7 linked regions of the Homo sapiens genome follow. The protein of the gene in region 1 purifies or fractionates together with the protein of each later gene. This does not show direct contact. Each region holds a gene or a part of one and is shown in the gene's direction. Other genes may lie near its edges.

The links.
Region 2: the proteins of IPPK (region 1) and RMND1 purify together in Homo sapiens (affinity purification with mass spectrometry; 2 studies listed by BioGRID and IntAct, with this or other methods). This does not show direct contact.
Region 3: the proteins of IPPK (region 1) and SERINC1 purify together in Homo sapiens (affinity purification with mass spectrometry; 2 studies listed by BioGRID and IntAct, with this or other methods). This does not show direct contact.
Region 4: the proteins of IPPK (region 1) and TYRO3 purify together in Homo sapiens (affinity purification with mass spectrometry; 2 studies listed by BioGRID and IntAct, with this or other methods). This does not show direct contact.
Region 5: the proteins of IPPK (region 1) and MPZL1 purify together in Homo sapiens (affinity purification with mass spectrometry; 2 studies listed by BioGRID and IntAct, with this or other methods). This does not show direct contact.
Region 6: the proteins of IPPK (region 1) and SLC9A1 purify together in Homo sapiens (affinity purification with mass spectrometry; 2 studies listed by BioGRID and IntAct, with this or other methods). This does not show direct contact.
Region 7: the proteins of IPPK (region 1) and RTN2 purify together in Homo sapiens (affinity purification with mass spectrometry; 2 studies listed by BioGRID and IntAct, with this or other methods). This does not show direct contact.

The regions. Positions count from the first base shown.
Region 1 is NC_000009.12:92,631,779-92,636,221, reverse strand, and holds part of IPPK (inositol-pentakisphosphate 2-kinase), read left to right. Parts: intron 1-913; coding exon 914-1,064; intron 1,065-1,733; coding exon 1,734-1,836; intron 1,837-4,443. UniProt on the Homo sapiens protein: Phosphorylates Ins(1,3,4,5,6)P5 at position 2 to form Ins(1,2,3,4,5,6)P6 (InsP6 or phytate). InsP6 is involved in many processes such as mRNA export, non-homologous end-joining, endocytosis, ion channel regulation.
Region 2 is NC_000006.12:151,441,493-151,445,935, reverse strand, and holds part of RMND1 (required for meiotic nuclear division protein 1 homolog), read left to right. Parts: intron 1-110; 5' UTR 111-124; coding exon 125-628; intron 629-4,443. UniProt on the Homo sapiens protein: Required for mitochondrial translation, possibly by coordinating the assembly or maintenance of the mitochondrial ribosome.
Region 3 is NC_000006.12:122,451,308-122,454,807, reverse strand, and holds part of SERINC1 (serine incorporator 1), read left to right. Parts: intron 1-577; coding exon 578-657; intron 658-900; coding exon 901-1,038; intron 1,039-2,750; coding exon 2,751-2,920; intron 2,921-3,053; coding exon 3,054-3,144; intron 3,145-3,500.
Region 4 is NC_000015.10:41,579,312-41,583,754, forward strand, and holds the end of TYRO3 (tyrosine-protein kinase receptor TYRO3 isoform 1 precursor), read left to right. Parts: 3' UTR 1-4,278; downstream 4,279-4,443. UniProt on the Homo sapiens protein: Receptor tyrosine kinase that transduces signals from the extracellular matrix into the cytoplasm by binding to several ligands including TULP1 or GAS6. Regulates many physiological processes including cell survival, migration and differentiation.
Region 5 is NC_000001.11:167,766,040-167,770,482, forward strand, and holds part of MPZL1 (myelin protein zero-like protein 1 isoform a precursor), read left to right. Parts: intron 1-4,443. UniProt on the Homo sapiens protein: Cell surface receptor, which is involved in signal transduction processes. Recruits PTPN11/SHP-2 to the cell membrane and is a putative substrate of PTPN11/SHP-2.
Region 6 is NC_000001.11:27,148,186-27,152,628, reverse strand, and holds part of SLC9A1 (sodium/hydrogen exchanger 1), read left to right. Parts: intron 1-4,443. UniProt on the Homo sapiens protein: Electroneutral Na(+) /H(+) antiporter that extrudes Na(+) in exchange for external protons driven by the inward sodium ion chemical gradient, protecting cells from acidification that occurs from metabolism.
Region 7 is NC_000019.10:45,493,865-45,498,923, reverse strand, and holds the start of RTN2 (reticulon-2), read left to right. Parts: upstream 1-1,876; 5' UTR 1,877-2,098; coding exon 2,099-2,132; intron 2,133-3,784; coding exon 3,785-3,829; intron 3,830-3,918; coding exon 3,919-4,398; intron 4,399-4,503; coding exon 4,504-4,758; intron 4,759-5,059. Other genes in the region: PPM1N (putative protein phosphatase 1N), read right to left, coding at 1-451. UniProt on the Homo sapiens protein: Inhibits amyloid precursor protein processing, probably by blocking BACE1 activity. Enhances trafficking of the glutamate transporter SLC1A1/EAAC1 from the endoplasmic reticulum to the cell surface.

The DNA.
Region 1 (4,443 bases):
ATCTGCAGCTGACTACAGTTTTCCCCCTGCATGGACACCTTTCTTACTGTGTCTTTGCCTGTAGTTTGGTTCTTTGTGGGAGATGGTTGCTCCCTTCAGTGGCAGGAGATGATCTGGGACTTGGTACCTCCCAAGCTCACTTGGCACCCTGTACAGCACAGGTGCCAAACAACTGTGAGTGGCAAGTGGAGTTTTGTTTCTGCCTCTGTCCCTATGATATAACAGGTCCTTGTCAGTGGCTTTGACCCCTGTCTGTGGCTCTGTGTGGCTGGTTCTGAGCTCGTGCCTGTCGCCAGCCCAGGTCTTACCTGCCTCTCAGTGTGGGCTCATGGCTCTGGACTCTGCAGACAGTGTCCCAGGGTTTTCCTCCTTTAGTGGTCTTGCAGATTTAGGATGTCAGCAGGATCTTAGAAATTCCTTGCCTTGCAGTTGCAATGAGTCGAGATCACGCCACTGCACTCCAGGCTGGGCCACAGAGAGCAAGACTCTGTCTCAAAAAAAAAAAAGAAAAGAAAAAGAAGAAATTTTGTGACCTGACTTAAAATGAGGATTATGTCTAAACTTAGATCATAAAGTGACTTCCAGGGCTGTTGTGGTGGAATCTAAAGGACATTCTGAGAGTTGTGTTGGGAGAGGAGAGCCACGAGGCAGGACATGTGCATTTCTTGCTCCCTCCTTTGTGCTTGGCCTGGTGCATCCAGTGTGGTCCAGGCACGCTGCAGCTCCAGCAGCTCTGTGAGGCGGGAGCGTCATCTCGTCTGTCCTTAGTGCCAGTCCAGGGTGCAGTCCTTGCCTGTGGTGATGCCCGTATGGCGGAGCCCAGGATGAGCCCTGCGGTCTGCGCCGGCCTGTGTCTCCCTCCACGTTCTTTGATAATCAACATGCTCTCGTTTTCCCCTGATGTTCTCGGTAGGAAAAAACACCCCAGAGCGCTCGGGGTTACCGAAGGGCTGTCTTCTGTACAAAACCCTCCAGGTGCAGATGTTGGACCTGCTGGACATCGAAGGCCTCTACCCTCTGTACAACCGGGTTGAGCGATACCTGGAAGAGTTTCCCGAGGAGAGGTGAGGTCGGGCGGTCCCCCTGTTGGGCAGCCCTGAGAGGAGACTGTGGGAGTGGGCAGGGTAAGAATGCGCCTCCCAAGGCACAGCTTCCCAGGAGGATGAAGCATGCCGGCCACTTCCTACCCCAGTCCTCCGCTCCCAGGTGCCCAGGCCTGCTCTGGAATGTAGTGCCTTGTAAAGGAGGAACAGGGTCACTTGTTTCTAGAAAAGAAAGCACGTCTGTGACCTTGCTAATTCGAAACCCCAAGATGGGGCTGAGCCTGCAGAGGGCAGTGTTGCTCCACAGCTGAGCAGCGCTCCTGCAGGTCGTTCTGTGTCAGCCCAGCCTCTGTCCTGGGCTTTCACTGCGGGTCATTGGGGTCCACACCCGCGGTGTCCAGTCGGGGCCAGGATCCTCTTCCTTCCTCGCTGGTCTTCCTTGCATCTCTGACGCAGGATGCTACTTGTCATGAACAGGAGAAGGCTCAGCTTCAAGGCTCGCTGGTTCTGGTCTTGCTGAGTTCTGTTAAAAACCTTGATGTTTAACATGAGGGAGATAGATCTGTTATGTGTTTTTCAAAACAAAATGTGTGATGTTTAGTGGTGCTGGGCTTTGTAGACTGTTAGCAGTTTAAGAAACAACCTCCGTGCGGCTTTGTCATCCTGTTTTTATTGTGCTTTCTTCTTCAGAAAAACCTTACAAATAGATGGGCCTTATGATGAAGCATTTTACCAGAAGCTGCTTGACCTTTCCACTGAGGATGACGGGACAGTGGCCTTCGCGCTAACGAAGGTGGGCAGACCCATCCAAAAACTTGCTGTGTGATCCTTAGCTTCTTAGCACTAATCTGTTTTTTTGTTTTTTGTATTTTTTTTTCCATTACCTACCCCTGAGGTTTAAAGCAGAAAACTTGGGATCAAAAAGAAGTGGCTGAAGTTTCTCCCAGATGAACTGGGGCAGGTGGTGGTGCATTGAGGTTTTAAGGGGAATTTCCCTTGGTTGAGTTCTGCCCTGGCCCGTTCCTGGTGGGGTCAGGCCCCAGGGGCGGCCGATCTGCAACCCATCTGCATGCCTTCTCAGCAGCCCACAACAGGCTCTCTGCCAACTGTCCCTTGCTACAAGGCCCTTGCCAGGGTCCTGGGACCCCACCTGTGCCTCTGCCCTGCCCCTGGCTGTATGCGGGCGGCTTCCTTCCCTTAGAACCGAGGCCAAGGGACAGCCTGCAGGAGTCTCTTAGGGAAGAGGACTGGCCCTGTACTTCCTGGGTCTGTGAAATTCAGGGCTCCATGAGCTTGGATAGGAAAAAAATGGCATCTTCATTTTCACTAAGCTGTACCTGGAATTTAGCATTTCTTTCCATTACGAATGTGGCAATGAGCCTGTGGGTTCATCAGGACCCAGGAGTTTGCCACTAAGAGAATAAAAAAACAGACTTTCCGTCTCACACTGTAACTGCAGACACTTTGAGATGTGGTTTATTCATCACTGCATTAAATGTTACATATTACTACGGAATACATTTGTTTTTAAAAATATTTTGGCTCAGCACTTTGGGAGGCTGAGGTGGGAGAATTACTTAAAACCAAAAGTTGGAAGCCAACCTGGTCAACATAGTGAGACGCCCATCTCTACAAAAGAAAAATTAAAAAATTAGCTGGACGTAGTGGCGTGTGCCTAGAGTCCCAGCCACTTGGGAAGCTGAGGTAGGAGGATGCAGTCAAGGCTGCGGGGAACTGTGATCATACCGCTGTGCTCCAGCCTGGGTGACAGAGCAAGCCCCGTCTCAAAAAAACATTTTTTTTTTTTTTTGGTATTTTACATTTCTGCCACCTGTATTTTATATTACACATTTTAAAATGTTATCCTGGGCCGGGTGTGGTGGCTCACGCCTGTAAACCCAGCACTTTGGGAGGCTGAGGCGGGTGGATTATGAGGTCAGGAGATTGAGACCATCCTGGCTAACATGGTCAAACCCCACCTCTACTGAAAATACAAAAAAATTAAGCAGGCGTGGTGGCAGGCGTCTGTAGTCCCAACTACTTGGGAGGCTGAGGTAGGAGAATCACTTGAACCTGGGAGGCAGAGATTGCAGTGAGCCAAGATTGCACCACTGCATTCTAGCCTGGGCGACAGAGCGAGACTCCATCTCATAAAAAAAAAAAAAAAAGTTATTCTGAGAGAGGCCCATAGGCTTTACTAGGCTGCCAAAGCCTTTACAGGACAATAAGCAGTGAGGAAACCTGTTCTGGAGCGAGCTGGCGCTCCTCCCCACATGTGCATGCACCGCTGCCTGGAGCCCTGGGACCCACTTGCCCTGTCCCGTTGACATGTCTGTGGCTCACATTTGGGAGAGAGCCCTCAGTGCTTTCTTTAACTGGGGCTGCAGCTGTCTGTTTTGAGGAGAACTGAGGATGTCTGGTAAAGCCTCAGGTGAGGCTCTGACGCAAAGGGCCACAGGGATGTTAGCAGAGGCCCAGGGCAGAGTTGTCATCCTGGTGAGGAGAGTTCCAAGTGGAGCCCTGGGGTGAGAAGAAAGCAGTGGCACCTGCCTCGTGCTGTCTGCCAGTTGGGTACGTTGATTTAGGTATAAACAGCAGTGTGGCGGGTTTTTTCCTAAGAGAAGAAACAGGACTTTATTTCCTTTTTATGTATTTCTGTATTTTTCAGTTTTCCACAAAATAAGTATGGATTACTTTTTAATTTTACTTTAATCTTTTAACCTGATATGTAAATGTAGTGTTGTAAGCAGCTAAAGCAGACATTACTTAACTAGCAGAAGGGCTAAAATAAAGACACTGAAACAACACCAAATGGAGGTGCAGAGAAACTGGATCTCTCATCTGTTGCTGATGGGGATGGAAAATGACACAGTCACTCCGGAAAACAGTTTGGAAGGTTCCTACACACTAAACACGCAATTACCCTGTACTTGTGCTCCTGGGCATTTATCCCAGAGAAATGAAGACTGACACTCACCAAAAAACCTGTACAGAAATGTTCACAGCAGCCCTTTTTGTAACAGCTAAAAACTGGAAACCACCCACATGTCTTTCCACGGTGACCTCCAGCGGGTCAGACAGACTGTGCATTCATACCACAGAACTCTGCTCAGCACCAAAAAGGAACAGACTCTTGCTAAACAGCCCAGGTGGACCTCCAGGGGGCTTTGTTGGTGACGAAAACCAATCTCCAGAGGTCACACTGAATGATTCTGTGTGTATAACATCCTTGAATGGCAAAGATTTGTGGTTGCCAGGGGTTGGCAAGGAGGAACAAGGGAGGTAGATGTGGTTATAAAAGGTCAAACCAGGGGATCCCTGTGGTGATCAGACTGTTCTGTATCTTGACTGTGGTGGTGGATGCATGAACCTACGTGTGATCACACACACACTCTCATAC
Region 2 (4,443 bases), on another chromosome or scaffold:
ATCTGTTTTACAAATTTTTCTAACAGAAATATGCCTGCTACCTAGGGAAATATTATATATGTTTTAAACATTAATTTAAAAACTTGAACTTTGAATTCCTTTTCTTTTAGCTTGGGATGTGGTAATGCCAGCCACACTCCTCAGAGCCGTGGCCAGATCTCATCATATATTATCAAAAGCACATCAGTGCCGAAGAATCGGTCATCTAATGTTAAAACCACTTAAGGAATTTGAAAATACAACATGCAGCACACTGACAATACGTCAAAGCTTGGATTTGTTCCTTCCTGATAAAACAGCTAGTGGTTTGAATAAGTCTCAGATCCTGGAAATGAACCAAAAAAAGTCAGATACCAGCATGCTGTCTCCATTAAATGCTGCTCGTTGCCAAGATGAAAAGGCACACCTTCCAACCATGAAATCCTTTGGTACTCACAGGAGAGTGACCCACAAACCAAATCTGTTGGGTTCTAAATGGTTTATAAAAATATTAAAGAGGCATTTCTCATCTGTATCAACGGAAACATTTGTTCCAAAACAAGACTTCCCACAGGTGAAGAGACCACTAAAAGCATCCAGGACCAGACAGCCATCCAGGACCAACCTTCCAGTTCTGTCTGTGAACGAGGTAAAGTAGGGGTGGCCGTGGCTCTCGTGCTTAGTGATCATTGCTCATGCTAAACCAGTGTGCGTTGCACCCCAGCCTTACCGCCAACGTAAGAGAACTAGCAGTCACTCAGACTTCTTCATCAAGGTCTTTGAAGCCTAATAAATATCCAAAGGGATTCAGAATCTTAATTTTTAACAATTAATGATACATATAAAAACAAAATACAGGTGATAACACATGAAAATAGAGTTTATAAAAGATTTGGTTATTGGTCTAAGGAAACTGAAAAAGAGGACCAATATTAAGTCCAGTCTAAGAATGGGACTGTAAAAAAAAATAAAATAAAAAAAAACAAACTAGAAATTCTTCATCAAGTTAAAAAAAATTGTAACTCTGCAGACAGATAAGCCTTTATTAGGCTGTGGCAGTTGCATGGGGCGGTGAAATGACACGGTAGGGTGGACTCCAAAAGCAGCAGGAGAGGAGGGCCCAGCTTTTTTATCCTCTTAAGGTTTAAGGGGGTATTTTTTATTCATCCTTAAGGGGTTTCTGGGAATTTTTCTGCTACAATTTGCATTTCTCCTTCAGTAACAACTTAAGGGTCAAGATCAAGCCCTTGATAACCTTTGTATCTTGCATAATACCTAGAACTGTACCTTGTACTTAAATGTTTATAAGAGGATCTTTAATGCCGATAGTCATCAACTTTAAAGATATTTTAAACTTGATGAAGACTTCTGAATCTATCAGAAAACAGGTTAGAATGTCTGTCTTCAAGTCTTGATTCTGAAAAGTAGCCCCTGAGCCTGTTTCATTTTGGCTGTGTTTTTATTACTGTGCAGCTGACACCCCTTGGAAAGGTATACATACATACCTTTACTCATCCTCTGATTCTGAATCTAGCAATGAATGAATGGTTTTTGTGTTGGATTCTGGAATGCTTTCAATTCTTGTGTGGTTACTCTGAACTCAGGACGTGAAGGATGAAGTGTTGTGCAGCTACTGTTTCCCCTTTCCTTTTGCTGGAGCTTTGGGGTAACCTGGGAAATTCAGTATTTAAGTGTCCGAGATGGCATTAAGTGTAAAAACCTGAATTCATGGCAGCTCCAAAAAAGAGAAAGCTCAACTCACTTTGTTCATTTGTAACGTCTAGCAGCACAGTGCATCAGGTTTCTTAGGAAGAAGCTGATAGGTCAGAGATGTCCCTAGGCTATTTCTTTGGGCCATCCTTAGACTTGGAAGCAATTTTCCTAAATACCGTATCTATTTTTCTTTAGATTTTTTTTTCTACTTCCTTCCAGGAAAGAATTTGAAGTAGATTTTCAACATTCAACATAGTTTCAAATGAGATAATAAATACTTTCACATATTAGAGCAAATAGTTGACATGAACAGAGAAATGTTATGAAGTACCTGAAATGAATAATCTAGTTGAACATTTTGTTTTGAGAAGCGCAGTAATTAAAAGAGGAACTCCTCCTGGGATTTAGTGTTTGTTGTTTATTGTTGTGGGAGAGGGCAGAGTAAAAACATAAAAATATCTTCAGAGAAATAACTTTTTCCAGCACTGAAATTAAGGAGTTAGTTATTTCATGGATTCTGTTATAGGAGACATTATGTAACATGATAGACAATGACTTCAGTTGGAGTTTGGCAAGAGCAAGTCGCATGCTGTCTTTCTGAAAGCACAGGGAAATAATAGAAAATCAGATGTTTCTGGCTGGGCGGTGGCTCACAGCTGTAATCCCAACACTTTGGGAGGCCCAGGCAGGCGATTACTTGAGGTCAGGAGTTCGAGACCAGCCTAGCCAATATGGTGAAACCCTGTCTCTACAAATATACAAAAATTAGCCAGGCGTAGTGGTGCACACCTGTAATCCCAGCGGCTCGGGAGGCTGAGGCAGGAGAATCTCTTGAACTCGGGAGGTGGAGGTTGCAGTGAGCTGAGATCATGCCACTGCACTCCAGCCTGGGTGACAGAGTGAGACTCTGTCTCAAAAAAAGAGAAGAAAATCATGTTTCTAAAGTGGTCTGAGATAATGTAATTTTGGAACATCATTTTTTGAAGATTTTACTTTTCATAGAGAAAGCAGTCTTGGCATGACTAGGTAATATGTCCCCAGGACCAAAGACTGACTTTCCTCTGCCCGAAATTGAGGGCCACTCCATTTTTATACGGCCATCATAGTGGTAAACCCTTTATACCACTTTATACCATCAAAATGGTAAACCCTTTATACCATTCTTGACTGAGACAAGGAAAAGACTCTGCTTTGTGTCAGAAAGCATGTGGACTTTATTTTGTTCCCATAGTTGCACCCAGCTCATCTTTTCAGCTCTGCAGAACAGCGTGCATCTGGAGTTGGCTGAATGAGGTTTCAGTCACCCTGTCTGTTGGAATTAAATCTTTACCTGGTCTCATTTTCAGAGATCATAATCTGAGATACTCAACCCACATCCCTTTGGCTTACAATTCCTAAAAGCAATAGTGGATCCAGTGGCTTATGCCTATAATTTCAGTGCTTTGGGAGGCTGACACAGAAAGACCACTTGAGGCCAGGAGTTGAAGACCAGCCTGGCAACATAGCAAGACTCCCATTTCTAAAAGACTTGGAAAAAAAAAAAAAAAAAAGCCGGGCTTGCTGGTGCGCAGCTGTAGTCCTAGCTACTCAAGAGGCTGAGGTGGGAGGATCGCTTGAGCTCCAGGGTTCCAGGCTGCAGTGAGTCGTGACTGCACCTCGCTCCGTCCAGCCTGGGCGACAGAGTGAGGCCCTGTCACTAAACAAACAAGAAAACAATAATAGCAGTGCTTCTTGTTAATGTCCAGTCTTTGAAGAGAACAGCAGAGGATGGGAACGGCAGGTCTGAGTGGCATGGAGCCCGACACCAGGGAGAATGTTTTCAGGCTAATAGCACTGTGTTACAGAATCACTGGTGGACTGTTAACCATTTTTTTGAAAAATGAAATAGAATAGAAAATAACAGAATACATTGCTCATGATAAACGTAAATACTGGTTTGTGAAGCTTTTGTGGCAATTGGTGTGTAAGCATATATGTGTATATGTACTATGTTTAATGATTTATAGGTTGTAGTCAGAAAAACTTACAGGATAAAGCGTGATCTTGGTAACGTAAAATGTATCTGTGTTTTTATAGCTTTAATCTCCAATCAGTATGTTACAGGAGAAAAGGCATTTTTCCTTAGTATGATCTATCTACTCACAGTACTTCTGACATCAAATATATGGGGACCTCTTCCTCCTCCTACCAGCCAGTTCTCCAATTCTCCAGACACTAACAAGGTGTCCTGCAATTCAGTTCAATTCCAGCACTAGCCAGAGTTAGTGCAGACGCCAGTTAGTTAAGCTCAGCCCCACAAGACTGCCCTCCCAGTTGACACCTGTGCTTCTGACCAACCAGCTCTATGACAACCATCCCCTCTTCAGGTTTGATTATTTGCTAGAATGGCCCACAGAACTCAGGGAATCATTTTATTTATGTTTACTGGGTTTTTTATATAAAGTATGCAAATGAACAACCAGATGTAGAGGTGCACAGAGTGAAGTCAAGAAGGGCCTGGAACTTAGGAGCTTCTGTTCCTCATAGAACTGGGCTGTGCCACCCTCCTGGCACATGGATGCATTGATCAACCCAGGAGTTCTCCAGACCCCATCATCTGGGTGTTTTTAATGGAGGTTTCATTGTGTAAGCCATGATTAATGATTAACTCAATCTCCAGCCCCTCTCCGTCCACCAGAAGTTAAGGGTGAGGCTGAAAGTTCTAAGCTTCTAATCAAAGTTTGGTCTTTCTGGTAACCACCCCCCATCCTG
Region 3 (3,500 bases), on another chromosome or scaffold:
CTTCTGCTACCCATTGTGTATTCCCTTTGCCTTCAGCAAGCAACTCAGCAGGTCGTGGTTTTTTTCCTGGTGGAGTGACCCAATGATCTCCATAAGCGCCTACTTTAACTGGGGGACCACAATGTTGTTTTGGGTCCCCTGGAATCAATGTCAGCTCAGAGCCAGTGTCCAGTAGTCCCCAAAATGTCTTATCATTTCCCTTTCTTTTCCAGCCATTTGCTCTGATGCTTCCTCTAGCGTGGTCTGGGCTTTAATCCATTCCTTTCACATGTTGACTTGCCTTTCTTATCAGATTTTTTTTGCTTTGTTTTTTCCAATTGGAAAGATCTATAATATAAGCTTGGGTTCATGGTAATGGTTAATTTCACTCTCTCTCCAAACTATGTTATCTAAATATGATGATTACCTTGTTTTGTAGTTACAAATATGGCTACACTCCAGATCATAATATCCTCAGAAAGAAGTAGAACATTCACATAAAGTGTAGCTATTTGTTAAGATGCAGTTAAATGATTTCATATATGAAATTATTTGATGAATGTCTATTAATAAAAAATTATATTTCTTTTTGTTTTAGATTTTGGTTCTTTAAATTTGCTGCAGCAATTGCAATTATTATTGGGGCATTCTTCATTCCAGAAGGAACTTTTACAACTGGTAAGAAATCCTTTTTAAGTTGTTTGACATTGATATTTTATAAAGGAATCTGAAATAATTGTCACCTGGAACTATAATTGTTTGTCTTTTTGTTTGGGGGTGTGTGTGTGTGTGTTTCCCCAGTTGGCAAAATCAAGATGTTCATATAAAATTTTATTTTCCTTTTTGTGTACTGTGATTTTGAAAGGAAATGATAAAAATCAAACTAACCAATCACTTATGTATGCTTTCTTTCCCTTTCAGTGTGGTTTTATGTAGGCATGGCAGGTGCCTTTTGTTTCATCCTCATACAACTAGTCTTACTTATTGATTTTGCACATTCATGGAATGAATCGTGGGTTGAAAAAATGGAAGAAGGGAACTCGAGATGTTGGTATGCAGGTAAGCTTTCGTCGCAGAACAACTTCAGTATAGTTGAACTTTGAAGTCGAGAATAGATATGTAGACTAGGTAAATCACTTAGGATTTTTATGGTCTACTTTCCTATGATGAGGTTTTTAATTTAAACTTTGTGAGTGTCAAAATATCACATTGTATCAGCAACTTGGTGAGCAGATCTTTTAGCAGATTAACTGGGAACATAACCCAAGAACCAGGAAAGAATCCAAAAGAACCTGAATAGCTAAAATAAATGTTCCAAAGCATATTACTGAAAGCATGTGCACTTTATAGCCTAATTTTCTAGCCTACAATGGGTTAAAAGCAAAATATTAAAGGGAAGAGGATTGCTAGGAATAGATAAACACACAGTGATACAATTCATAAACAGCAGCAAATAAAAAATATAAAAAGCAACTCGGATGTTTTATTCAAGTGCAAAGGATGCTTTTATGTGCATCAATAACAACTAAAGGAATTCCTATAGTAATGTAATTAATGATTATTTATAATGATGATGTTGAGTCCTTTGGGGTTATACTTGAAAACAGATATCCCAATTCAAATGCTTACAGGGCCAAACCAGGTAACAAAAATGAGGGAACAGGAGGACAGAGTTTAAGTGCATAAGCTTTGTGCAAATAGACTACAATGAATTGGAGAGTATGAATGCCCCATCTAAAGTGCATTACTACTGCTCAGCTCCATTTATTAGTTGCCTTGTGGGAATGTGAACTTAGTATTGCTTGATTTTTCTAATGTTTTTCAAAAGAAGTCATAAATCTGGATTTTCATGCTAAATGACTGAGTTTCAGCTAAAAAAATTTTAAATTGGAGTGCAAGCCAAATCCAGTGTGTCTGCTGGCCTAATATTCCTCTCACACAACTAATTTGTGGTGTTTTATCTCAGTGGTTCAAGTTAAAATAATTTGGTGCTCAAAGAAATAAGCTTTAGTCATTTGGAAATTTCACTTACATTGAATACCTTGTTCTCTAAATGCAAAGTCTAATGCAAGGGTTTCTGTGTCTTTTGTTCCCTGCTGTATCCCCAGGGCCTGGAATGCAGGCATTCAATAAATATTTGTTGGATGGATCCCCTGTCAGCGAGGCAAATCTACATAAATACTTGTATATTAGGCACATATTAGCATAAAGGCTAAACAACTTGTGTATGTTGAAATTTACATAGAAAAAGCATAGGTTGACTTATTAAATAATGACTTACCCTTGCATAATATGTATCTTTTAAGATTTTAGTTCATGAGGAAAAGCATCATTGTTGTGAGGGCTTAACATTAATAATGAAAATAATTTTCTTAATGCCCTTGTTTACAACTGAGTGATAATGGTTCTTTAAAAACCTTAAGTAATATTCCTCTTATAGTTATTTTTCTTTATTTTGAAAATAATGGCTAACATGTAAACATAGTTTGTAAACTCTAATATAGATATTAGTATTAAATCCTATTAGTTTCTTACTAACTTGCCATCCTTGCAAATACATAATAGCTATGTGTAAAAACTAGAATTCTTCAGCAATAAAGGTCAGAATTAATTTTCTTTCCTGCTTTTATAGCCTTTATAATGCTGACAATGTTAGTTGCTTAAAATATATTTTTTGACAAAATGACAGATTGTTTATAAAACAGGTCCCATTTCTAATTGCTAATAATTTCTGATAAAAAGCTAATTATCCAATTATATTTCTTTCACAGCCTTGTTATCAGCTACAGCTCTGAATTATCTGCTGTCTTTAGTTGCTATCGTCCTGTTCTTTGTCTACTACACTCATCCAGCCAGTTGTTCAGAAAACAAGGCGTTCATCAGTGTCAACATGCTCCTCTGCGTTGGTGCTTCTGTAATGTCTATACTGCCAAAAATCCAAGTATGCCCTTTAAAGCATTAGTTTTTATGAAGCTTATACCTTTTTAAGTTTTCAAAAATCTAGAATGATGTCAGACTATTTACCTGTGTTGCTATATATATATATATATATTTTTTTTTTTTTTTTTTTGTAGGAATCACAACCAAGATCTGGTTTGTTACAGTCTTCAGTAATTACAGTCTACACAATGTATTTGACATGGTCAGCTATGACCAATGAACCAGGTGTGTTTTATTTATATTACATGTTCCTAAAGGTTCTGCAGTTGTTGTTTTTCCAGAAATTGTCTTTTTGTGAGATTAAATTACTTAAAAATTAGGCTTCTAGAGGAATAAAGTACAAAGTTTTGATCTTTGATGTATTATTTATTTCACTTAGTTTCTTCCATCACTAACAAAATTATAAGAAGGTTACATGTATACCTAAGAGAAACTGTGAGTTCAGTTTCAGAGCACCACAATGAAACAAGCATCACAGTAAAGCATGATTTTTTGGTTTCCCAGTGCATATAAAACTTTTGTTTATCTTACACTAGTCTGTTGTGTGCCATAGCATTATGTCTAGAAAAACAATGTACATT
Region 4 (4,443 bases), on another chromosome or scaffold:
AAATAAAATTGAAGACTAAAGACCTAAGGTTTTGTCTCTTTTTTTTTTTCTTTTTTTTTGAGACAGTCTCACTGTGTTGCCCAGGCTGGAGTGCATGGTGTGATCTTGGTTCACTGCAACCTCTGCCTCCTGGGTTCAAGCGATTCTTGTGCCTCAGTCACCAGAGTAGCTGGGATTACAGGGGCTCACTACCATGCCCAGGTAATTTTTGTATTTTTAGTAGAGATGTGGTTTCGCCATGTTGGCCAGGGTGGTCTTGAACTCATGACCTCAAGTGATCTGCCTGCCTTGGCCTCCCAAAGTGCTGGGATTACAGTCCTGAGCCACCACACCTGGCCCCAGCTTTGTCTCTTAAATGTTTACTTTTTTTGAGATCACAAAGATGAAAGATTTTTATAGAGAGAAAAGTCTGGAAAGACATATGCCAAAATGTTAACAGCTGTTATCTTTTTTTTTTTTTTTTTGAGACCGAGTCTCACTCTGTCGCCCAGGCTGGAGTGCAATTGCGCGATCTGAGCTCACTGCAAGCTCTGCCTCCCAGGTTCACGCCATTCTCCTGCCTCAGCCTCCCGAGTAGCTGGGACTACAGGTGCCTGCCACCACGCCCGGCTAATTTTTTGTATTTTTAGTAGAGATAGGGTTTCACCGTATTAGCCAGGATGATCTCAATCTCCTGACCTCGTGATCCGCCTGCCTCAGCCTCCCAAAGTGTTGGGATTACAGGCGTGAGCCACCGCACCTGGCAACAGCTGTTACCTTTAAATGATGGGGTTAAGGGGACGTTCTTCTTTGTGCTTTCCAAGTTTTCTGCATTGAGCACAAAATGCTTTTGTAATTAGATACAGGATCCCAATGAATCTTATTATACTGAAGATAATACAGAGTCACCGTGGGCAGTTAGAAAAATGCAAAAAATCGGCTGGGCGCAGTGGCTCACGCCTGTAATCCCAGCACTTTGGGAGACCTGGGTGTGTGGATCACGAGGTCAGAAGTTCAAGACTAGTCTGACCAACATGGTGACACCCCGTCTTTACTAAAAATACAAAAATTAGCTGGGCATGGTGGCGCGTGTCTGTAATCCCAGCTACTCAGGACACTGAGGCAGGAGAATTGCTTGAACTCAGGAGGCGGAGGTTGCAGTGAGTCGAGATCCCGGCAGCCTAGGTGACAGGCGAGACTCCATCTCAAAAATAAAATAAAAATAAAAATGCAAAAAATAATAAAAGGTGCCAGTTACCTATACTCCCACCACCTAGAGATAATCACCATTGATCTTTTGAAAATGCAAATATTCAGCTGGGCACAGTGGCGTGTATTTTTTTTTTTTTTTGAGACGGAGTCTCGAGTCTCTCTCTGTCGCCCAGGCTAGAGTGCAGTGGTGTGATCTCGGCTCACTGTAACCTCTGTCTCCCAGGTTTAATCAAGTCTCTTGTCTTGGCTTCCCGAGTAGTTGGGACTACAGGCACGAGCCACTGTGTCCGGCTATTTTTTGTATTTTTTTGTAGAGACAGGGTTTCGCCATGTTGGCCAGGCTGGTCTCGAACTCCTGATTTCAAGTGATCTGCCTGCCTTAGCCTCCCAAAGTGCTGTGATAACAGGGGTGAGACACCATACCCAGCTTGTAATCCCAGCACTTTGGGAGGCTGAGGCGGGTGGATCACTTCAGGCCGGGAGTTCGAGACCAGCCTGGGCAACATGAAACCCCATCTCAACTAAAAATTCAAAAAAGTTTAGCCAGGCTTGGTGGCGCAGGTTTGTCATCTCAGCTACTGGGTGACTGAGGCATGAGAATCACTTAAACCTGGGAGGAGGAGGTTGCAGTAAGCTGAGATCTTGCCACTAAACTTCGGCCTGGGTGACAGATTAAGACTGTCTCAGAAACAAAACAAAACAACAAAAAAGCTTTTAGAGCAAGTTCATGGGAGATGCAGCAGGAGGCGCAGGAACCACACATGTGCTAGTGAGGAGTGTGGGGAGACTGGGAGGGCCCACAGGTATTGTGCTGCTTCTGGCTGAGGGCAGGGGAATAGGGTGGCTGCTTCTGAAAGCAAATATCCTGAAAAACCTGTTGCTGGTACTCCAAATTCTGGTTCCCATGTAGATCATGAAACCTGAAAAACTTCCAGGCAAGTAGCTTTCAGAATCTTTCCTGCTGTGATTAGCTTTCACTGCAGGTAGTGATTACCTGTGAGATAACATCTGGGAATTATTGATTGAAAAGACCTTCACTATCGGTTGGGGGCGGTGGCTGATGCCTGTAATCCCAGCACTTTGTGAGGCTGAGGCGGGTGGATCACCTGAGGTCAGGGGTTCAAGACCAGCCTGGCCAACATGGTGAAACCCCATCTCTACTAAAAAATACAAAAACTAGCCAGGAGTGGTGGCAGGCACCTGTAATCCCAGCTACTTGGGAGGCTAAGGCAGGAGAATCACTTGAACCCTGGAGGCGGAGGTTGCAGTGAACTGAGATGGCACCAGTGCACTCCAGCCTGGGTGACAGAGCGAGACTCCATCTCAAAAAAAAAAAAAAAAAAAAGAGGCCAGGCATGGTGGCTCACGCCTATAATCCCAGCGCTTTGGGATTTTCTGTCTCAAAAAAAAAAAGAGAGAGACTCTGGATCAAAAAGGATTTTCACAAACAGATCCAAAGAACCAGCATCCAGATTAAGAAACAGCATTAACAGCAACCCAGAAGCAACCCTTGGGACCTGCCTCAATCTCTGCCTCCTCCCTACTCCCCATAGGTAACCTCTATCCTGACCTCTTAACACCATGGATCAGTGAAGCTCCTTTTAAAAGTATATAAATGGAGTCATGTAGATTTGATTACTTTGCGTTTGGCTTCTTTCCCTCAGCAACATGTTTATAAGGATCATCTAACAACAGCAGTTTTGAAAAGTGAGTCTCAAAGAGGCAAGAATGGCCGGGCATGGTGGCTCACACCCGTAATCCCAGCGCTTTGGGAGGCCGAGGCGGGCGGATCACAAGGTCAGGAGTTTGAGACCAGCCTGGCTAACAGGGTGAAACCCTGTCTTTACTAAACCCTGTCTTTACTAAAAATACACAAAATTAGCCAGGTATGGTGGCAGGCACGTGTAATCCTAGCTACTCGGGAGGCTGAGGCAGGAGAATCACTTGAACCTGGGAGGGGGAGGTTGCAGTGAGCCACTACATTCCAGCTTGGGTGAGAGAGTGAGACTCCATCTCGGAAAAAAAAAAAATTAGCTGGGCGTGCTGGTGGGTGCCTGTAATCCCAGCTACTTGGGAGGCTGAGGTAGGAGAATTGCTTGAACCTGGGAGGTGGAAGTTGCTGTGAGACGAGATTGTGCCATGGCACTCCAGCCTGGACAAGAGTGAGACTCCATCTCAAAAAAGAAAATAATAATAATATAGTTTATTTTTCAGTATTTCATGTTGATTTATCTCAAATTTATTGTTGAATAAGAAGTGATACAGAGATTCAAAGTTATTTTTCCCAGATACTTTTTATTGTCCCAATACCACCATTTATTGAACAATCTATATTTTATGCACATTTCTTTTTTTTTTCTTTTTTTTGATACAGGGTCTTGCTCTGTTTCTGCCTGGGCTGGAGTAAAGTGATAGTAAACTGATTCTCCCACCTCAGCGTCCTGAATAGCTGGGACCACAGGCACACGCCACTGCACCTGGCAAATTTTTAAGTGTTTTTTTTTTTTTTTAATACAGAGCCTTGCTCTGTCGCCCAGGCTGGAGTGCAGTGGTGTGATCTCGGCTCACTGCAACCTCCGCCTCTCAGTTCAAGCGAGTCTCCTCCTGCCTCACACTCCCAATTAGCTGGGACTACAGGCACGTGCCACCACAACATGCTAATTTTTTGTATTTTTAGTAGAGACAGGGTTTCACCATGTTAGCCAGGATGGTCTCGATCTCCTGACCTCGTGATCTGCCCGCCTCAGCCTCCCAAAGTGCTGGGATTACAGGCTTCAGCCACCGCGCCCGGCCCAGTTTTTAAGTGTTGTAGAGATGGAGTCTTGCTTTGTTGCCCAGGCTGGTCTTGAACTCTGGGCTGAAGCGATCTGCCCACCTTGGCCTCTCAAAGTGCGGAGATTACAGGTGTGAGCCACCACACCCAGCCAGAATTTCTTGAATAATCTGTCTCCATTTCTCTATATAGCCTCATTGATCTATCTAAACTCCCATATCTATTTTGGTTGCTAGACTGTTCATCCCAATTACATGTGCCAGTGTCACTGCTACACTAATTGAATTACTATAAATGTATAATGTTTTCCTATATGTTCGTGGTACATTTTTTTTGCAACGTTCTCCCAAGGTCTGAGGAACACTATGTCAAGGCATGGCATGAAAGGAATACAGGTCTCCCAAGGCTTTAGAGAAGAATGATTTGTTCATGGTGTCACAAAGCAAGGGGTGAGGGGCACAATTGGGATGAAAACCCAG
Region 5 (4,443 bases), on another chromosome or scaffold:
TTTTATTGCCCCATATTTATTGATATTTGTTTTATGTATTATCAAATTTTATATATATATGTATGCATCTTCTGATTTGATTATCTTTTTTTAATTTAGCGTATAGTCCATCTGATTTAGCAATATTGATTTGGGAGCTTACTATGTAGTGGGTTATGTAGGGCCTTCAAAAATGTCTAAAACAGAATCCTTGCTCTCACCTAGAGATGATTAGGAGGAAGGCTGATATATAGATGACTTTGGAGTAAGATAAAGGATGTAACAGAAATACAGCACCAGAGCATTGAAAAAAGGTTATTTAGTAACTAGTGGAGTGCTGGTTATTAAACATGAACTGACTATCTTGGTTCTGGTCTGTAAAATGGAGACGATAAAACCTCCCACACAAGGGTGTTAGGAGGATAAAGTAAGATTATTCAAGATAAGTGCTCAGGAGAGTGTCTAGCTCTTGAGTTACTAAAATACACCATTTGTTGTTACTGTTGCTCTCCCAGCATGTGGAATGCCCTTCATATATTGGCACATATTTTAGTACTGTTGCATGTTTCAGGTTGTCAGTGTTTAGCAAGGACAGTCTGTCATCTATCTTTAAGAATGCCCAATTCTTCTTCTGAATGGTGAGTTACATTGTTGATCACCACCTAGATGTTGGGCCCATCATATGCCTATGCCATTTAATCTTCACAGCTCTATGAGGAAGACAGGGTGGGGAGGATGGGAGACACTGACTCAAGAGTTATTCACCTGTGGCCATACCACACAGGTTAGAATTGTTTAAACTTCAATACGGTATGATTTCCCTTATGTATTATTTCTCTCTCAGGTAGAAAAATCTGCTAATAATATTTACGGCCTCATAGGTTTTAGGGATTACCTAAGGCAGTGCTTCTCAGTATTTTTTAAAATTTATTTTTAAAAGGAGCCTTTTCACATTTTTCTTAATCTCTGCCCCCTTCCATGAAATTTTAATATTGTAGATATCCTCTGCAACTGTTTTACATATAAAAGAGAAAGATTTTCTCAAAGCTTCCCACCCAAGAGCCAGTGTTTGCTCCCTTGGGGGAGAATCTCCCCTATGGAGAATGCATAGTCTAGAGGTCTTTATAAGAGAGGCCTTCCCTTACAGTAGCCATAAGGGTGAGCACAGGAATCCATACAGATACCATGGAAAGACATAAAGAGGCATTCTCTGCTTCACGTAAATATGGCATCAGCATAGAACATACACTAATGTTCCCATAGAGGCAAGATTAAACACATAAGTTTACTCAAGAGAGTCCAAAGAACTATTTAAACATTTAAAGATTTCCCACTGAAGTCTTCTGCAAGAGTGGGTGTGAGAGCCACCCAGAGGTAATAACTTTCTTTTAAAGAGCGGTTCCATTTATGCTGGAAACAGTCTTGTCGTGTAGGTCCATGAAGGTTTACATAACTCAAAACTTAATATTAAGAACATGCTGTAATTCTGATTAATATTTTTAGCTAATCAATTTATACTTACACACGAGTCTGATTGCAGTTAATCCCAGCATGTTCAGTTATTGACATAGGATCCTTTAATTCCAAAATGTCGGGACACATTTAATAAGATGAGTGGGTTGCTTTTTTGTTTTTATAGGTTTTACAGGAAAAGTATATTCAAACCCAGTATATTCAAAAGCCATACTGTGGATGGCTTTTTTGGCCCATGGCCTTGGGATCCACATGTCTGAAACTGAACTCATTTTTTCTCCCTTCTGTTTCCCTTTTCTGCTTTTTTTTTTTTTTTTTTTTTTTAGGTTAATTGTGTTCATCTGCAGATGAGTTTTGTAATCATTTTGTTTTGTTTTGTTTTGTTTTGTTTTGTTTTGTTTTGTGTTTTCTGTCCTTTCCTTCCCTGTCCCTTACCACTTCCCTTCTGCCCCCAAGAAATAAGAACCTTTGCTGGTTCTTCCTACTTTGTTTCTGGTGTCTAGCTTTTTGTCAGCCTTCCTGTGTCTCTGCTGTCTATTGAGCAATGTTAACTGTGTGCCTGGTCTTGTGCAGTAGCCCCTTGTTATTCTTCTGCTTCTGTTTTTCTCATCTTTCAATCCAACCCTCATATGCCAGCAGGTGCATAGTCTTAGAACAGCTCTTTCACCTTGCCACTGCAGGTTATCAGGAACCTAGATTCCCATTGTGGACAACATTTGTCTAGAATTAAAAGCTCATTACAATTTGGCCCAGCCTACCACTTTAGCCTCACTTCTGTTCTCTTATGGCATCACTTCCAGTTTAGTAAAAATGCTTTGTGCTTTGTTTTCCTACTTCTGAACACTTGTCATTTAAGCTGTACCCCATTTTTACCCTCTGTCTCCTCCATAATGCCTCTTTTTTTTTTTTTAACCTTTTAGCCCTTAAAACTCACTACCCTTATCTGGGCCATTCCTATAATACAGATCCCTTAATATGACAGTTTTCCTCTTCTTCCTGAATATGGGTGTTTTAAGAGGACTTGCCTGTCTTACATCTTTAGTATACCTCATAGCTTTAGCACCATGGCTTGTACTTTAAAAATATTGATTGATAATGATTCTAGTCTTTTCTGTGAATTTTTCACTGTTTTATTTCCATCTCTCACTGGTTTGACCAAGACGTTATTCCTCAGTTTGATTCAGCAAACTATGTAGTTCCTGCTGTGTCCAAAGTGCTAAGGAGTACAGAGATAAATACATCTTATCCTCTGCCTTCAAATGGCCCCCATTCAATGAGGGAGCCTGACTGAGGGAGCTGTCTCAGACCCAGTGCTGAGAAACAGCATCATGTAGCTCATCCCCGCTGGTTCAGAAATGCAAGGCAGGGAATATGTGGAGATGTTGTGGGAAGGGAAGGCAGAGAGCAGGTGATGGAAGGATTCATTTGCAAAGCTGAGAGTTTATGGTTCATTTTCTAGTGAAGAAGAGAGAGTGAAGAACTTTGAACAGATAAGACATGATCTCACCTGAGAGGCCTTAAACATTGGAAATAGCATAAGCTTTGAAATCAGAGCTGAGTTTGAATTCCATCTCTAAAACCTGTGACTTTGGGAAAGTCACCAAGGTTTCCTGAGCCTCACATTCCCTATTTATGAAATATCAGGTAGGCGAATCTCACCTTGCAGGGTGGTTGTGAGGGCTAGAGAGTTGTTGGGAGACAGTTTTCTATGGGTCTTTCACGTTTTTGCACACCTTGCTAGCAAAGGCACTGGCTGCCTTTGTTCTGGACTTTTTTTATACAGTAACTAGCTTTGGAAGGCAGAGATGATGTTACCCTCTGGAGCAAAGGACAAATTTGTGTATTCTTGAGTATAGTAAAGGTAGTGTCTCCTTTCAGGGCTGAAGTCAGACATGTCTTCTGCCCCTTGTAAGAGAATAGTGTTCCCTGAGCTTGGGGTTCCTCGGCTGTGATGCAACGCCTCTGCCTGCACAACATCCATGTGAGCCCCTCCATGTCATGGCTATGGGACTTGCGGGGCAAGAGAAACAAACACATGCTTTCTGCTCATAAGGTTCTTTGTTTCTGAGTCTTCTTCATGGGAGTGAAGATTTCACAGGAGTCCGTGTCTTCTGTCAGCACCTATGAACCTGTGGCCAACTAACTTTGTTAGCTTGTAAGTAGGGTAAAATCTCAGACCCTTCACGGTTCTTAACAAGCATTTAGGTCATATGAAATGCAGGGTAAATATTTGATAAATGTTATAATAATAACCATTATTCTTTATCAGTGATCATTTAGGCATTGTGGAAGATGATGAGTTAGACATACCAGTTAAGAGGCCATAGTCCAAGATGATGAAAACATAAAAACAGATATTGTCAGTGGGAACCGAATAGAGAGAAGAGAGAACTGAGAGAAACTAATGAGACATTGACAATATTGGGGGATTAACTGGATAGGAAGAAAGAGAATCAAGGATGACTTCAAGATTTATGGTTTTGGAAAGAAACAGTAGCCATCAGTGAAGACACGATACATGAAGAGGGGAAGATGAAGTTTGTAAGAGAGGGTGACAAGCTTGGGGGAGAGGGGCAGCCAGGTGGTAAAGTGAGTAGGCAAGGAGTCTAGAGCTTAGGGGACGCTATTGATGGAGAGAGAGGTTTGGGAGTTAAGAAAATCTAGATGATCATTAAATCATAGGAATGGATGAGTCTGCACTGGGGTTTTCACCGTGCTCAAAGGGTTCTGAAAATGTTCTGTTTGAATTGCTAATAGAGCTGGTTTCTATCCCCAGCTCCACCATCACCCCGTCCATTAACCAGAACAAAGACATCAGGCCTCCAGCATAGCTGCTTGGATTAGAGCCAAGTGTGAGGATAGATCCCCTCCCACTGGGCCTTAACCCTGCTTCCAGGTGCTGAGTTTGACAAGGTTTACTTTGAGAAGACAGTTCCTTTGCTGAAAGCAGGACTGAGGAGAGACTGAGGAGTGGAAAGAGAAAGGGGCTAA
Region 6 (4,443 bases), on another chromosome or scaffold:
AATCAAGGACTGGACAAGGGGAACCATGTGTACTGATTCTGACATAAATGCATGACCTTGAATAGCTGAGGCCTTTTTCTGCAGGTCTCCCTCACCTGTGAAATGGTTAAGACTCTCAATTTGACCACACCAATTGAGTCATGAAATGTCGTCTGATTTGCTGTAAGAAGCTGAAGTGACAGTGATGTCATTTGACTGTGTGAGACCAGGAGGAGACCTCACAAGTGCAATCTATAAATTGCCTCCTGTCCCCGATCCCCTCACCTGCCCACCACACCTGGCATTACATTAGGGCATTCAGGGCTGGCAGACACACTTTGAGTGTCAGTGGCTGCTGGTGGGATGACAGCATGACTGCAGAGACCCCACTCTAGGCAGTCAGAAGTTTGTCCCTGCAGGCCTGGTATCTCTAGTGCTAATGAGGTCAGCTTGGCCTGGCCTGCTTTGTCACCACCCAAGTGCTGTGCCCGGGACCCTGGGCAGCTGGAGAGCAGAGATGGTGTCATGGCAACAATATCAGTCTAGAAGTCAGGAAAACCTGGCTTCTCTTCCTACCTCCCTCTGTCCTTGGACCAGTCACGCCTCCCTACCCATCAGTTGATCTTTGTGGTCCCTTCCAGGTGTGATATTTCTGTCATTCCACTGACTCTGGAAACTCTGGCAAGTCACTCAGCCTTGGACCTCAGTTTTCCCATTGTAAAATGATGAGGCTGGATGTGGTCTCCTTTCCAAAAGTCTGTTTCTGCCTTGGAAAGGCATTTTTCTGCCTCTGAAAACAGGAGTTCTAGCATCTGGCCATGAGTGGAGAGAAAGGTGGTCTAAAGATCTGAAGAGTCCCTGTTCAGGCCTCAAAAATGAAAGCCCATTTTTCCCAGCTTCACCTTTGCAGTGTGGAATTCAGCCACCACTCTGCCACTTAGCAGCATCTCTGAGCCTCAGTTTCCTCATGTATAAAAGGGGAACTAAGCTGGGCGCAGTGGCTCACGCCTGTAATCCCAGCACTTTGGGAGGCTGAGGCAGGGTGGATCGCCTGAAGTCAGGAGTTTTGATACCAGCCTGGCCAACATGGTGAAACCCCGTCTCTACTAAAAATACAAAAAATTAGCTGGGCATGGTGGCGGCTGCCTGTAATCCCAGCTACTCTGGAGGCCAAGGCAGGAGGATCGCTTGAACCCAGGAGGCGGAGGTTGCAGTGAGCCAAGATTGCGCCATTGCACTCCAGCCTGGGCAACAAGAGTGAAATTCCGTCTCTAAATAAATAAATAAAAAAAAATAAAATGGGAACTAATAGTATCCAGTTATAGTGCTATTAATGTGATTATTACATAAATAAATGCACATAAAAGTTTGTATACACAGGAAGTGTTCAATGAGTGACAGCTGCCCCTGTTAATATTTTAACCACCTACAGCAAATGCATCCCTACCTCAGCCTCCTACAACCTTCCTCTGAGCTGAAGGATTACAAATCTCTCAAACCTAGGCTGCCACCAATGTCCTTCCTTAGGGTATCAGGGTTTCCATGTGTCCTATACTGTTCACTTGAGCTGGTCATGGCGGGAGGGAAGATGACACCAGCTGCCTTGTAGGGATAAGGGTGGGGGGCTGAGGCCATGCTCCCTCTGCACTCTCAGATACCCAAGAGCCTGGGAGCTGATTTTGGGGTCTTGCCTATTCTCTCAACACCCCTGCGTGGGTAGGAGTTCCGTTGGAGCCCTCATTCTGTCATCTATGGCAGCTGCTTCCCTTGCAGGTTACCCCTCCTATAAGAATAGAAAGTGCTTTGCAGTTCTCCTTCCTACCCTAACCATGGAGCAGAGCCTCGGGTAGACTCTTGCAGAGACTGGGGTGGGAGGAGCAGGGTGGGAGCTGAAGTTCTAGAATAGTTGCTTCTGGGTTCTAGTCTACCTCTGACTCAGTGGGTGACATTAGGTAAGTCACCTTCCCTCTCTGGACCTTTTTTCTCTCCCCAGCAGTCAGGAATTCTTGCTTGTCCTTGGTGGGGAGGGGCCAGTGGTGTGAAGAGGATTTAGGCTATTGGGAAAACTGTGGGAATGACTCCAAGCCTTAGGAGTTAGGTGCATTCCCCACCCCACATTGTGCTGTGGACCCCGCATGAACTCTGCTTTGTTCCATGTTCACCTGACTCCCAGGCTAGTACTTATTCCAGAGGAGAGCCTCACTGTAACTCAGCTCACCACTGGCATCTCCTGCAATTGTTTACCCATGTTCCTGACCCAGAATGCCTGGCAGAGGCCCGGGAGCCCATAAAGCAGGTATTCATCTTGTCTCCTGACCAGGGACACAAAAGGCTTCTTTTGTCCCTTTATATCTTATAGCTTTTTTTGGTTTTGGTCTTTGCAAGGCGAATCCTGCCATCTCCTCTGTAGATTAAGTCTGTGAATAGGGGAGATGGGGTCACTGCCCACTTCACATGCATGGATATCAGACCCAGCAACTGGTTTCCTATAAAAATGACACTAGAAGGTGCCTCTCTCACTTCTCAAAAGAAGAGAAGAACAAATAGCCTAAAGGTCACCTTGAAACTGTCTCAAGAAGCCCAGATAGGACTCTAAAAAGGAAGCGATGACCTTTTTCTCTTTGGGAAAATAGCAGACTGACTGCAGAACAGTGGGAGGGAGGTCAGCTGGGGACTGGGAGGAAGGCTTCAGGTAGGACATGTGTCTCTAGGAGTGCCAAGGCACTTAGAGGGCTTAGTTGGTCAGATTGCCCAGACTTCATTCAGCTGAGCACCCTCGAAGTTTGCCTTTCCTCTCCTTCCAAGCCAGCCCCATGGCGTCCAGCCCTGGTACAAAGGAAAGACGTAGTCAGAAGCCCTGGGTTCTGCTCCTGATGCTGCCTCTCAGTACCTGTGTGACCATGAACCTTGAGGTTCATGCACCTCATTCTCTGAACCTGACTTGCCTCATCCTTAAGACCAACGTAGAGGCTGAACGTGGGAATGCCTGGTAGAGTGCCCAGCTCACTGTAGTAACTTTCAGGGCCGTGCAGATTCTTCCCCTTTTGGGAGGTCTTCCCAGCCCACAGCAGTCACTTTCTCTTTCTCTCCCAAACCCTTTTCCCTTATTGTTTATCCATAACAGTGGCATTAGGCCTTGCCTGCCCTGTGACATCTCCTGTGTTGAACGGGTGTGTGTGTTTTAATAATAGTTGCCACTTAGTATCTACAGAGTAGTGTCAGGCACTTTATAAAAGCAATCTTATTTAATCCCTACTCAAATCACATGAGATAAAAGCTGTCTCTGTTTTGCAGATGAGGAAATGGCTCAGAGAGGTTATCTTCAGTGATGTCAAATTGCTATTTATTGTCTGTTCGAGTCTTGGCATAGCCTGCTAGAGGGGTGCAGCTGCATCTCCTGCCTCTGGCATTCCCGCAGCAGATGCACATGGCCCTGCACTGAGAAGCGCCCAGCTCACTGCACCTGCACTCAGGAATTGTAGGACTCCCTCTAGGAGTTGGGCACATGTCGTTGGTGGGAGCCCTGTCCCTGCCTTGAGAAAGCTGTAGGTGTTCTGTGTCCAGCTGTGCACCTGTCCTTTGTTTTTGTGAGTCTTCTTGGATGCACCTGAATCCTGCATTCAGGAGGCCTATCCCTTGTTCTCTGCTAGCAACCCTGCCTGCTATCTCTCTTCCGGTGCCCTCTCAGCCATCAGACCAGAGCTTGCTTCTTCCCTGCTTGGGCAGGGAAGTGCCAGGTAAAGGGTGGTCTCCTTTAGCCACAAGGGGTGGCTGACCTTATGACCTCCCGCCTCTGAGCAGAAAGGTGACAGGCTGCTTTTGGTTACCCTCAGGGCCCAGCAGAGTCCCCTGAGAGGCAGCCTCTGTTGGGAGCAGGTGGCACAACTTTGTTTAGCTCTACAAGGCAGGAGGAGTTTAATAGTACTTCTCATTAGCACTGAAATTTGTTTCCAAAGCACTTGTGTGTACAATATTTAATTTAGATCTTCTCAGTGGTCCTGTGGGTTAGAATAGCATGTGGTATTGATGTGTTCATCATTTTACATCTAAGGAAATTGAGCCTTCGGTTGTGACCTGCCTGAGGTCACTTAGCATGCCTGGGACTAATCACTCAAGGCCAAACTCTCTCCTGCCAGGCCAACATGCTGGGTTCTTGTTGGATCAAGGGGGATGAGAGATTTAAAGGGGCTTTGAGGAGAGTCAATGACCAGACACATCCACATTGGTAACCTGGATTGTTGTCAGGAGGGACACCTGTTCCTCCTGTAGGCAGGAAGGGCTAAAGGGTCTGGGTGGTCTGGAGCCTTGACAGCTTTGGCTCAGCTCCAAGTTCTTTTCTACAACTTGAACATACCTGTATTTGCATGAAGGAGGATGAGGGCCAGAGTTGCACTGGGGACTGACATTCTCATAGCCCTTATCTGTGGAGCAGCAAATCTTTGAAATGGAGGACTTGTCCTTTCC
Region 7 (5,059 bases), on another chromosome or scaffold:
GGCGCTCGTCGGCGCTCAAGAAGGCTCGGCGCAGCGCCTCGCGCACGCCCTCGGGCTCGCTAGGCTCCGGGCCCAGCTCCTGGAGCACATGGCCTGGCAAATGGCGTGCACCGAAGCGGGCAGCTCGAGCCCCACCGTGGCCGTCGAGGACGGCAAACAAGGCCCAGCCCGGGGGCAGACCAGGTAACGAAAGCCAAGTGCAGTGAGCATCCTCCATGCGCGCGCGCCAGCCTTGCGCTGCGCTCGCCCCGAAGCGCAGGCCCCCAGACGCCTCGGCACCCCCGTGCGGCCGCTGGGCGCGGCGCGGCGCTGTCAACAGAGACCGAGGCCCTTCGGGGGCCCTGCGCCCCGCCTCCTCCTCCTCCTCTTCCTCCCTCCCCTCCTTCTCCCTCTCCTTTTTCTTGCAAGCGGTCCAGAGGAGACGCTGCAGCTGGCGGGCCAGGACCGCCATCCTTCAGCCCTGGGATCAGGAAGGCTCCACCCTGTACACCTGCCCGCCCCCTCCATTAATCCCCTCCGCTGTGAGATTTTAAACCATCTAAATCTCCTTCCTGTCCTTTGACCTGCTCTTTAGGCGGGTCACTAGAAGGAATTACACTTCTGGGTCTCCTGTTTCCTGCACCTACAAAGCGGGGTTTGGGATCTGAATCAGGAAAAAAAAAGAAAAAAGATAATACTGTACCAGTGGCAAACTATTACATAGTACTAATGTGTCACACACTGTTATACATCATCATCTCCAGTTTACATATGGAAGAAGAAACAGAGTCACAGAAGTAACCGGTGTTCCAGGGAAACTAATTCTAGAATCTGTGTTCTCAACACAACACTCAGTCCAAGCTCCTCCCACCTCAGTGGTACAGCCCCCAGCCTCAAAACCTGTAAATACCATACTTGGCCGGGCGCGGTGGCTCACGCCTATAACCCCAGCACTTAGGGAGGCCGAGGCAGGCGGATCGCTTAAGCCCAGGAGTTTGAGACCAGCCTGGGAAACATAGCGAGACCCCGTCTCTACAAAAATTAACATTTAGCCAGGCGCGGTGGAACACACCTGTGATCCCAGCTACTCAGGAGGCTTAGGTGGGAGGATCACCTGAGCCCGGGAGGTCGAGGCTGCAGTGAGCCGTGATCGTATCACTGCACTCCAGCCTGGGCAACAGAGCGAGACCCTGTCTCAAAAAGATATATATATATATATATATATATATATATATATATATATATACATATTTTTTTTTTCTTTACTGTTTTTAGTTCGACCCCTCCCCTCTGGGGCTTCGCTTATTTTCTCTTCCAGGCCCCGCCCATCCAGGATTCAGGCACACAGCTCCAGACCCTTCTAATTTTCGCAGACCTGGAATCGCCTGGAATCCGACCCCACCCAGTTATATTTGAATAATTCCCTGTTGCTTTAGCCCTGCCCACGTTTGAGCTCCTCCGCGTGCCCCAAAAGTTTCTGAATCGTTTCATTCGGCCCCCTTTCTCGCTCCCTCTGCAAATCTAGGCTCGGACCCTACCTCAGAGCATTAGAATCTTTCCACCCCCTCCTCAATGGCACCCCGAGCACCACCCCAACCCACCCAGGGATCCACGCTCTCATCCTCTCTGCCGTGGCTCGTTCACCATCCTCTCCCAAGTCCCTCGCCAGACTCCAGGCCTCCTTCCCTCTTCCCCTAAAGGCTGCGCCCTCTGCGATCTAGGCCCCGCCCTTCAGGCCGCTTTCCCCTCCTTCCTGGCTCCGTAGCCCACCCTCTTGGTTCCGCCCCTTTAGTAAGAAGGCCACGCCCCTCCGCCTGATCCTCGGCGTTTCCCCGCCCCTCACCCTCCCTCTGGTACCGCCCCGCCCGTCTTCTGGCCCCGCCCCCGGCCGCGCGCTGCAGTGCCTTCCCCACCTCGGCCCCGCCCGCCCCCGCCGAGCCGAGCACCAGGGCGGCGGCGGCGGCGGCGGCGGCGGCGGCGGCTGGAGCAGCCCGGGAGGAGGAGGCGGCGAGAATGGCAGCGGCGTCGTGGGCGCGGCGGAGATGAGCGCCCGCGACCCCGGGCCCAGGGCGGCACAGCCGGAGTGGGCGGGGGTCCCGATGCAGGCCCGAGGGGGGCCATGGGGCAGGTCCTGCCGGTCTTCGCCCACTGCAGTGAGTAGAGGAAGACTGGGGCCTGGTGTGGGCCCCAGAGGTTCAGGTGGGGTACTCCCCGGTGTCCCCTCGGCGCTTGCCCGCAGGAGAGCCGGGATGGGGGGAGGAGGCATAGGAGACAAAGGAAGCTCTCCCCTCCCCCGCGCTCTGGCGGCGACGGGGGTAGCCTGACCCGGAGGACCTGGACGAAACAGGGCGGAGGTGAGGGGGCACTGAGACAGCAGGCGGGGGGCGCGCTGCGCTCTGGGACGTACCGCCCGGCCCCGCCCGGGAGCGAGGACGCGCGCGGGGAGCTGTCCCCTGGCTCTGGTGCTGGCCGCAGCTGGCGGGGAGGGGGTTGAACGGAGGGTAGAGCCAGGATGGAAAACAGGGGTCTGGCTCCCAATCACTTGCCTTCGCATCCCATCCCCGTTTTCTGTCCAAGAGGCAGCCCCGACCTCGCCCAAACTGTCCAACCCTGTCCCGGGAAAACAGCCATCCGTGGTTTGGGGGCAAGGACTCATGGGTTCTTAGCGGTCTTTACCACTGGTTAATGGTAATCCTGGGGAAGACCCACACCATTCCAGGCCTCCTATTCCCCAGCTGAGGAAACGAGGTGAGGGCACAGGGCGTCAGATTTCAATTTCCAAACCGCATTGAGCATCATCTATGTGCAAAGCTCTGAACTAGCTCTAAGGGGCTGGATTCCCAGCTGAAAACGCCTAGCCTCACAATCTCTGAGCTCACAGCTATAACAGTCCATGTCTACCGTTCTCTGTCCCACACATGGGGGTTCTGACAGCTGGGGATTTCAACACCCTTAGATCTAGCCATTTCCATGTCTCGCGTGTCCAGATGCCAAAATTCTAAGAATTGGTGATTTCAGCATTTTCGAGTATCATCCCAACATTCTATGATCTTGTCGTTAACTTCAGATTACAAAGGGAGGACCACCTCGTCTGTCTCTCCCCACCGCCCTTACCTCTCTGTTCTCACCTCCCACTCCTCTCCTCCTCAGTCACTCTTCTCCAGTCATATCTTCGCACCTCTCAGTTCCTCAGATGCCAAGCATGGTGCCTGGCTCAGGGCCTTTGCACTGGCTTTCTTCTCTACCTGGAAGACGTCCCTGAACATCTGCATGGCTTCCTCACTTCCTTCAGATCTCTGCTCAAACGTCATCTTATCAGAGAAGCCTTCTTGACCACCCTATGAGAAACAGCACCCCTTCACTTTCTCTTCCCCTACCCTTCTTTACTTTGCTCCCTATGCTCATCTGCACCCGACGTCATATATTCACTTGTTTATTGTTTGTCTATCCCAAAGAGTGTCAGCTCTAGGAGGGCAGGGATTTTGTCTGTTTTCTTCACAGCTGTATCCCCAGGACCTAGAACAGTGCCTGGCACATAGTAGGTGCTCAATAAGTGGTTGTTGAACGAATGAATGAATTGAAACCTCCTAAGATTCCTACTTTGAAGACTCTAAGATTAAGATTCCTGGATTTGGACTTCAAAGACTCTGAGCTTCATCAGGCAGTGATGCTAGGTTTTAGAGTCTGTGTGCAGAATGTTCTAAAAATCCCGTGATTCAAATATTCTAAGATTCCAGGACTGGGACACTTCTGTGATTCGGACAGTCTAAGCTTCTAAGAGTCTTCGATTCTTTCCCTCTCGCAGAAGAAGCTCCGTCTACAGCCTCCTCAACTCCTGATTCCACAGAAGGTAAGTGGTGGGGAGCATGTGAAGGGGCTCAGGGCTGGGCAGCTCAGGGACCTGCTGAGGGAAACAAGGCTCTCCTTCACCCACTGCAGGAGGGAACGACGACTCTGATTTTCGAGAGCTGCACACAGCCCGGGAATTCTCAGAGGAGGACGAGGAGGAGACCACGTCGCAGGACTGGGGCACCCCCCGGGAGCTGACCTTCTCCTACATCGCCTTTGATGGTGTAGTGGGCTCCGGGGGCCGCAGGGATTCAACTGCCCGCCGCCCCCGCCCCCAGGGCCGCTCAGTCTCGGAACCACGAGACCAGCACCCTCAGCCCAGCCTGGGCGACAGCTTGGAGAGCATCCCCAGCCTGAGCCAATCCCCGGAGCCTGGACGACGGGGTGATCCTGACACCGCGCCTCCATCCGAGCGCCCTCTGGAAGACCTGAGGCTTCGGTTGGACCATCTGGGCTGGGTGGCCCGGGGAACGGGATCCGGGGAGGACTCTTCCACCAGCAGCTCCACCCCGCTGGAAGACGAAGAACCCCAAGAACCCAACAGATTGGAGACAGGAGAAGCTGGGGAAGGTGAGATGTCCGAGGTGCTGGGACCAAAGCCAAGAGGGGTGGGTGGTTTCTCCTTGGGGCACCTCCAAGAAGAAAGCTCACGGCCTCCTCTCTCTACCGTATCAGAACTGGACCTACGACTCCGACTTGCTCAGCCCTCATCGCCCGAGGTCTTGACTCCCCAGCTCAGTCCGGGCTCTGGGACACCCCAGGCCGGTACTCCGTCCCCATCCCGATCGCGAGATTCGAACTCTGGGCCCGAAGAGCCATTGCTGGAAGAGGAAGAAAAGCAGTGGGGGCCACTGGAGCGAGAGCCAGTAAGGGGACAGTGCCTCGATAGCACGGACCAATTAGAATTCACGGTGGAGCCACGCCTTCTAGGTAAGCAACGTGTATGAAGATGCTGCATTGGCCCACAGAAGGCAAAAGGTGAGAGGATTTTGAATTAAAGGGACCAACCTCGCAAAGGAACAGTACATAGTGGAAAAGGGAAGAGATAGACGTGATATCACATCTGGCTAGACGTGATAAACTCCGCTTTTTAAAAAAATTTCCCCGGCCGGGCGCGGTGGCTCATGCCTGTAATCCCAGCCCTTTGGGAGGCCGAGGCGGGCGGATCACTTGAGGTGAGGAGTTCGAGATCAGCCTGGCCAACATGGTGAAACCCCGTCTGTACTCGGGA